2 separate regions of the Homo sapiens genome follow, and region 1 is linked to region 2. Evidence: fine-mapped expression QTL. Tissue or cell type: whole blood. Region 2 holds a variant in brackets; the other region holds the start of a gene. All regions are shown on one strand. Distances are between the middles of the regions.

Region 1 (4,482 bases), 55 kb before region 2:
GCAGCAAAGTATACTGTGGTTGTGCAAGAAGAGCTTCATTTGTCATTGGGGAACTCTGTGGTAAAACCACAAAGTGTGCTGTCCCACCTGCTGGTTCCCCAAAGGGAAGGATGCAAATTCTTGTGTCTTTTTGGTTTCCCTTCATGGTAGGAGAGGTAAACAGCTTGAAGGGAATACATGGTGCTGCTATTGTTGTCATTTTTTCCCCAGAATGAGAAACTCTCAATGAATAATTAAATTCTGAGTCACAGGAAAAAGCTAAAATGAGAACCCAAGTCTCAAAAACTAAAGACCCAGTGCTTAAGACCCTCAAATTTGTTGCCTCTGTAAATCAAACTGCAGTCTTTTGTGGGTGATGGAGGCAAGTGAAGGAGGAGGGATAACAATTAAACTACAGTGTGGCCAGGCGCAGTGGCTCACACCTGTAATCCCAGCACTTTGGGAGGCCAAGGCAGGTGGATCATCTGAGGTCAGTAGTTTCAGACCAGCCTGGCCAACATGGTGAAACCCCGTCTCTACTAAAAATACAAAAATTAGCCAGGTGTGGTGGCGTGCACCTGTAATCCCAGCTACCCAGGAGGCTCAGCCAGGAGAATCACTGGAACCCGGGAGGCAGAGGTTGCAGTGAGCCAAGATGGCGCCACTGCACTCCAGCCTAGGCAACAGAGCAAGACTCTGTCTCAAAAAAAAAAAAAAAAAAAAGAATTAAACTACGGTGAAGAGAGAGCAAAGCGAATGCAGAGTCATAGCTTCCCCTCTGTGGCGAAGCCATGTGTTTCCTGAGTTAATAGAGATATTATTTAGTGAATATGTGAAAAAGATAAAGGCCACTTTGCTACCTCTTTTTCTAATTTCTTAAAATTCTCTACATATTTTCAGAATCTGAACGGGCTCTTTTGCTACAGACGTAGTCCAGTTAAATTTTCTGACTGAGACTTGAAGAAGGGCAGTTTGATACAGAAATTTGTATATTAACTAAATAGCCTTCAGAAAAAGTGTGGCAACTTCAATGAAATATACACTCTCTTAAGTTGGTTTTACTGCTTAGAAGTAGCCTCACACCGTATTAAATATTTTGCTGCCCATTTTGCCATATATCCAGTGAATATTAAAAATATCGTTCACTATATAGAACTGATTAATTGAAGAAAAATATAGCTTCTTATCGCTGACATTATGAGGTTAGAAATAGCATCCTGTGCTAATCTGCAATGCCAAGAAATGAAGATGGTTTAAATCAGATCTCATGACTAATGCATAAGATCCAAAGTTCTTTTATTCCTGGCTATTTTAGAAAACTGGGGTGTATTTTTACCCTAAAAACTAATTCTTAAGATTTATTGAAATAATACAAAATGACTTATAATTAACATCTCACAATCAAGATTTATAGTTTACTGATTATTAGAGAAATAATAATTTCTCCATCTTAATTTTTAAAAATATGTATATGCAATGGTTTAAGTCCATATTCAAGAATATTTGATCCTTAGTTGTTATTTTTGTTTTTAGATAATATCGGGAAAGATAATGTGCTTTAATAAAATGGAAAGTTTAGATTGATTTCTGCAGTTGCTAGTCCATTTTAATTGTACTTATTGTGAATTCATTGAAATGGAAAGAAATATATCCAGCAATAAAGTAGGCCTGTTATTTTTGCTTGTTTTTGTTTTGGTCATGACAAACTGTGAAATGCTGTGTTTTTTCTATAGTTCTAGTCTATGAAATCTGCAATCTTTCCACTTGATTTACGAAGGACCTTAATTACTGCTGTCATTAGCACCTAGTGTTCAAAACAGTCTGTTTAAATGTACTGTTAGTCTCACCTCCAAGTCCCTGCTTGCTTTATTTTTTTCCAAGGGTAAGTAAAACAATAATTGACTTAGTAACAACAATCATTATGTACAGTGAGTTAAATATTACACATTTTTGATGCCTATTTCTATTTATTTAGAATTTGGTATTTGTGTGTTCAGTCTGGCCTAGACTTGGAACAAGTGTCCGTAAGTAGCGCTGTTACTAGCGCAGACTTATTACCTGGGTTTTAAAAACAAGTCACTCATTTGCCTTTTTCTTTCCACATGGATAGGGATGACAGACAACTGCTGTAAAGCTTCAATGTTTCTGCCTGGTCATGCACAGTTCTGCAATATAATGCATAAATGTATAACAACAACTTGGGATCGCTTGATACTTTCCTTGGAATAAGGAAACCCTACCAGGCGCGTCCCCGCGCACGCGCGCGCGCATACACAGACACACACACTCACACACGCTCTCACGCACACACACAGGTCAAAAGTTGATTTATTTCTGAGATCCCCCCAGAATCTTTCTTCTCTCCGTCGCCGACGGCTCTGGGCTTCTCGGCGGGGCGGTAGTGTGGTTGGGGGCGTAGGAGGGGCGCCGGGCGCCGAGGCGACGGAGACGGGAGCCGGGTGCTGGTGCGTGCCGCGCCCGCTCCTGCCGGGTGAGAGTCCGGGCCGGGTTTTGCGCCGTGTCCGCGGGCCTGTCTCACGGCCTCCAGCCGCCGCCGCTGCCGTGTTTACTGAGCTCGCGCGTCCTGATATCACTCCGCTGGCATGGAGGAGGAGGAGGAGGTGGAGGAGCGAGAGGAGGAGGAGGAGGCGGCGGCGGCGGCGGCGGCGAGCAGTTGATCATTGTGATGGTGGCAGGAGCAGCGGCGGCAGCGGCAGCCCAGCCGAGCGTTAGGTGCTGCTCTCTGCGCGGCGTTTTGCAAAGGACTTCACCGATCTACTTTTGCAGTCGCCTCGGACTGTCCATGTGTTTACTTCCCCCAGCCCGAGGATTCGATATCTAGGTTCCTGTGAAATGCAACTGAGCAGCCAAAGTACTTTGAGAACACGGGGCGGCATAAACACCAAAACTTTTTTGTGGAAGGAAAATGCAATAAGCAAGCTTGCCGTTTTCCGATGCGGTGTGGAGTGAGTGTGTGTCGCGCGTGTCCGCACTGGAGGCATATGCTTGTGTGTGTACATGGGGTGTGTTTTTCGGTATGTAGGGAGAAAATGCTTGCCAACCACCGGAAATCTCCTGGAATTTATTAGAAAATAATGGATTATAAAAAGAAGGCAAGCAAGGAGCGGATCTCCCCTTGAGTTGCAACCCGATTTGCTGCTGGCTCAGTTTGTTGTGATTCTTTTTGTTGATAGGTGTCTGATGGTATTCCGATAACGTTCCCCCCTTTTCTTCCCCTTGAGCTTTTACAGTTTAAAAAAAGGAAACAAAAACCACCCCAAAATCTCCCCCCCCGTTTTTTTCGCCCCGTCGGGATCGCCGTTTCCATCCATGTGCTTGCGTCTCCCCCGCGTTCCACTTAAACTATTTTAATCCTTGGACCCAAGGAGGAGGCTGATAGGGGGGTGGATAAAAAAAGTTCTTCCAAAATAGTGTGCCCGGGGAGCAGGATGGGGGATTTCGCAGCCCCCGCTGCTGCCGCGAATGGCAGTAGTATTTGCATCAACAGTAGCCTGAACAGCAGCCTCGGCGGGGCCGGGATCGGTGTGAATAATACTCCCAATAGTACTCCCGCTGCTCCGAGTAGCAATCACCCGGCAGCCGGTGGATGCGGCGGCTCCGGGGGCCCCGGCGGCGGTTCGGCGGCCGTTCCCAAGCACAGCACCGTGGTGGAGCGGCTCCGCCAGCGCATCGAGGGCTGCCGTCGGCACCACGTCAACTGCGAGAACAGGTACCAGCAGGCTCAGGTGGAGCAGCTGGAGCTGGAGCGCCGGGACACCGTGAGCCTCTACCAGCGGACCCTGGAGCAGAGGGCCAAGAAATCGGGCGCCGGCACCGGCAAACAGCAGCACCCGAGCAAACCCCAGCAAGATGCGGAGGCTGCCTCGGCGGAGCAGAGGAACCACACGCTGATCATGGTGAGGGCGCACGGGCAGCGGGCTTGCGGCGCGCGTTGGGGGTGGTGGTGGTGGTGGGGGGCGCGTGGAGCTTCTTACATGGGGGTACAAGGGTCTGATTTGCACGGTGGGTGAGGTGGGCTGAAGCCTAAGGGTTAACGTCAACTTTTCTTAGGGAAAAAGCTGCCGTCGTCGCTACCTGTTAATCTGTCAGGGTTGTCAGATTTGGGGAGGAGGGGGCGAGAGGGGAGAAGCCAGTCACGACTGCGAGGGGCGGAGGGAGCCTAGAGGAGCGTCGGAGTGAGGTGCTGGAAAAGTTTCCCCCCTTCCCTTTCTTAAGATACCGATTTGAAAGAGTGAACCCCTGAGTTGAAACCTTGCTCCTCCTCTTCGCCGCTCCCCACCCCACCTCTAGCCGCGCCGCCTCGCCTCCCCAGACCCGTCCCCCTACGCCCACCCCTCTCAGCACATCCGCCGGGTGCGTGGAAATATTGATGCTGTCGCAGGTTCTGGGCGGGCACCAGGCCCTCAACCCCTAGGGGGGAAGCGGGGAAGGAGAGCCTCTCGCCTCCTCTCCCCAGCTCACCCCCTTTGGGCTGAGAAAGTC
Region 2 (4,306 bases):
CTTCATTTTGCCTGGCTGATGGCTCTTAGAAGACACAAACTTATGGCACAGATGACTTCTTCTGGTTCTAACTTGTGTTATCTCTTTTTCAAAAGTTAGTTAAATTCTCCATATATTTTAGTGTTGTTCTATTGGCTAGAAAGACAAAACAAGGGGAATCTGGCAAATGTAAAAAAAAAAAAAAAATGCTCAGCTGACCCAGCACGTGGAATTGCATTTACTAATTTAGGCTATTTTATATAGTGGAATAACATATTTGCAAAATGATGATAGTACCTTGAGTTTACCTAGCCTTTTTTTGGCCAAGGAACTGAAGGTGTTTTCAGTCCATAACCTGATTTCATTTCTAATTTACACTGATCTAAGAGGTATCACGTATGCTTCTCTTCATGTGATAGCTAGGCAAATGAAGACACAAACATTTCTTCCTCATATACACAAGAGATGTGGATGGTAAAAGACTGAAATGGAGGGTCTCCTGGCTTCCTGAGTAGAATTCTACCAAATTGTTCCTGAAGTTATTAACCACATTTGCCCCAATATCTGTTGACAGATAGAACAGCTGTGGGTAAACTGAACTTATCTGAAAGAAATGTGTATTATACATTACACAAGTGCATTACAACTGCAACTGTCCAAGAGCCTGGTGAGTTTCTCATCCCTTCAACTAGACCATCAGTGACTTGGGAGCTCTATTCTACACAAGGCCACTTTCCTCCCTTTAGAGGAAAAGTGTTCTATTAGGTAGGGTAGGACGCTGGGCCAAAAGGGATTAAAATTGTGTTCCTGTTACCTATTGCTAACTAGCAAACCACACCAAAACTTGACGGCTTAAACAACCATTATTTGATTATATCTGTGATTTTGTTCAAGCAGGGCTCAGCTGAGTGATTCTTCTATTCCATGTAGCGTCGACTCTGGTCCCTTGCTGTTAGTCAGTCAATGGCTGCTCTGATCTGGAGGATCCAATATGGCTTCACTCACCTTCCTGGCACCTTGGCAAGGATGCCTGGAAGACTGAGCTCCCCACTGGGCCTGTCTGCCTCTCCATGGAGCCTTGGAGCCATTCCATGTGGTTTCTCCATTAGGGTACTCATATTTCTTACAGGGAAGCCCAGGGTTCCAAGAGACCAAGGCCAAAACTGTTAGTCATATTAAGCACTAGGTTTGGAAATGGCATAATATCACTCCCATATTCAAAATCACTCCCATACTTGATTGGTCCAAGCAGTTATAGGCAACTCACCTTTAAAAGTGGTGGACGCAGGTTGTGGAATAGACACATCTGTCCATGGAAGAAGGATCAAAGAATTTGTGGTCATTTTTAATCTACCACATATGGTGTATACCTCTGTGGTTTGCTGAGGTTTTTGAAATCTTTTTTTTTTTTAATACACCTAAGACTTCATTTTAAGTGCATCTTAGTTTTGCCAGAATTTGAAGCACTTTGGGAATGGCTTGCTCCGTTTTTACATTATACAAACATACACACACATATATATGTTTTTCCACTAAGAAATGCCTCTATTCACAGGGGCATTGTTTAGTTACTTCTATCCTCATTCTGTCCTTTCAGTTCAATAAATTATCTGTTTGGTTTTATTTTCTTCTTGCAAGGAAGGATAAAACTTGAGGACTGTTTGTAAAAATGAATACAATTTGGTCTCTGTCATGGAGGAACTGAGTCTAGGGGGGTGGACCCTCATAGATATGGATAACTGGAGAACAAAAGTTTAAATAATAAACTTGAGAAAGGCATAGACACATGAGTGGAGGCTTGAGTCAGCAGAGGAAATCC[G/A]GGAACGTTGCAGAGAGGAAGTGGCACTGGGGCTAAGCCTTGAAGGAGACAGTGATCTCTACAGATGGGAGGGGGTGGAGTGGGGCTGGCATCCCGGAGGAGTGGCAGTGAGAGTCCATGCACCAGAGCAGATGGCATGCTCCACTCACAATGACTGGGTGCCTGGAACGTGGGGGCTGCGGTCGTTCAAGGGGCAGGGGTGGGGTGGTCATGGGGGAGTTGAGGCTGAACAGATGGGTTGGGGACACGTGGACTTTCTCTGAATGCAGATTTGTTCTGAATGTTATCACCATAGGAGGATTTGTGACAGGGAGTGCCATGATCAAATTTCTGATTTTTGAATGTTGTTTGTAATAGCAGGTTTGGGATGGTTTGAAGGAGTAGTAGACAAAAGGCTGAAAACCCTGTCGGAGAGCAGTAGTCCAGGAGAGATGAAACTGAGTGATAGAATGGAAAAGAAAGGTTTTGAGAGGTGTGTTGGGGAAGGGAGGTTGGAGAAATAACTTTCTGATTGCCAAACATGTGTTCAGACATTCTGCTCATCCTTTATCTAATTTAATTTTCACCAAAATCCATTTTTCATATGCAGTAACTGAGGCTTTGAGATGTTTAAAAACCTCCTAGCTAGAAGTGAATAGGATTGAGATTCAGAGCCAAGCATGTTTGGCTACAAACTGTCTATGATTTCCCATGAAACCTTGCCTTACCCACTGAAAATAACTCCAGGCGGGAGGATTGCTGGAACCCAGGAGTTCGAGACTGCAGTGAGCTATGATGGTGCCACTGTATTCCAGTCTGGGTGGCAGAGTGAGACCCTGTCTCTAAAAACAAAGACAGAAAGAAAGAAAAAAAAGAAAATAGCTACAGATTTCTTACTTGTGAGACTGGGTGGATGCTTGTGTCAGTAACAAAATTAAGAACTCAGTATTTTGCTTAAGGCTTTTAAAAAAGTTTTGCTCCTGAGTTGTTTGTGTGCACGTGTGTGTGTGTGTGTGTGTGTGTGTGTGTGATATACTTCCAATGTGAACAGAGTTTTATGAACACTTAAAAGTTTTTAGCTAGTGTCTATCAATTCTATCAACAGGAATGTAACAGATCAAAAAGTACTGTAAAACATACAATTCATGTCAATTTTACTGTCCTTATTTTTTTGTGCATAAATTATTCTTGGCCTCATAACTGATTTTATTGCACATTACAATCTTGTAAACAAAGAGCCTATTGTACCACATCTGGAACAGACCGAGACATCAAGGGAGGGCTGGGAAGCAATGGGGAGGAAAAGTAAAAATGAGTCAGAGAAACAATGTAGCAGTTCATGTGGGAACTTCCTCTGAATAGAGGGTATCCCTCCCCCACCTCAAAATAAGTCACCTTTCTCATTTTAAGAGCAAAAAGGCAAGAGAGACAGCAACCTATGTCTCTTAAGTTCTATTTCTGTCTAAACCCTGGAGGCCAGGGTGTGGGTGGCTCCAGGGCTCTGCTTTTGGGTCCCCAGGTGAATAGCCCGATGCAGACCAGTAGCCACATGGCCTTTGTGCCCAGGACTCATGGGCAGCGTGAATCTCACTTGAAAATTCAATCCTTGGTGCAGAGCACCATGAGATATTGAAAATAATGGTGTTTGGCATTGGTACTGCGTCCAGTTGGTTTCATTTTCACAGGCTTTCAGAGCCCCTGAGAAGTCCTGGTGATGATACGGGAAGGATAAGAAAGGGGGAATCTGGCTTCTCCCTTTGGTTGGTGAGGCTCTGTGTTTACAACACAGCCTGGCGTATACGAGGTGCTCAATAAATATTTACTAAATGCATGATTGCTTGAATGCCATGTGCCAGCTTCTGTTAAGTGCTTGCCAGCTGATATTTCACTTAATCTTCATAAAAAATGATGAAACCTAGTTCCCCATTACACAGATGAAGAAAACAAGGTCTAGAGAAATAATTTGCCCAAGGACGTGCGCATTGTATGTAATAGAGCTCGGATTCAAAAAACCTTTGCCCTTTTGAGCATACTGCGAATATTTTGAGTGAACTACAAATGTTCTTTATCACAATATTGTTTGGGTATAAATAAACACACTTCACATATGCAAAATAGAAGTTCTCCCAGTTTTTGAAAATGTGAGAACTCTTAAGAACTCCCTGGACCGAGCACATAATTAATAGGTGTTCAGTAAATGTTGAATAAATGAACGATAGCTTATTCTCTCTATTCTAATACTTCGTAGTGGAGAAAAACGTGGAGGACTTGAAGGCTTTTAGCTTTTAATAAAAATGCTCTTTTCAAGACAGGTTTCTTAATACAGGCAGGTTGACAAAAATGCCAAGCCAGTCAGTGATAGCTGGTTCATGCCCTCTATCCTATGCCAGTTTGGAAATATTTGGTGGAAACACAGTATTGGAAATATTGTGGTAACTTTTCCCATCTGGTTAAAAGTCTTCACTTCCCTCTTGTCACCACGAAGGAACGTGAGCTTGGAGATGAGGTTGTGAAATTTCCAGTTTTGCA

The links. PIP is the estimated chance that this variant, and not a neighbour inherited with it, causes the effect.
Region 1: it holds the start of MAML3, and the variant in region 2 is fine-mapped to the expression of MAML3 in whole blood (INTERVAL, PIP 0.97).

What each region holds. Positions count from the first base shown.
Region 1 is chr4:140,152,274-140,156,755 of GRCh38, reverse strand. MAML3 (mastermind like transcriptional coactivator 3) reads left to right here and starts at 2,572. Exons shown (of 5, transcript NM_018717.5): 1 at 2,572-3,896. The coding sequence starts at 3,429.
Region 2 is chr4:140,097,731-140,102,036 of GRCh38, reverse strand. The region is part of intron 1 of MAML3 (mastermind like transcriptional coactivator 3); the gene reads left to right. Among named protein-coding and RNA genes, the nearest start is that of MAML3-AS1, 28 kb to the left of the region's middle. The variant G/A (reference allele first, on the strand shown) is at 1,799.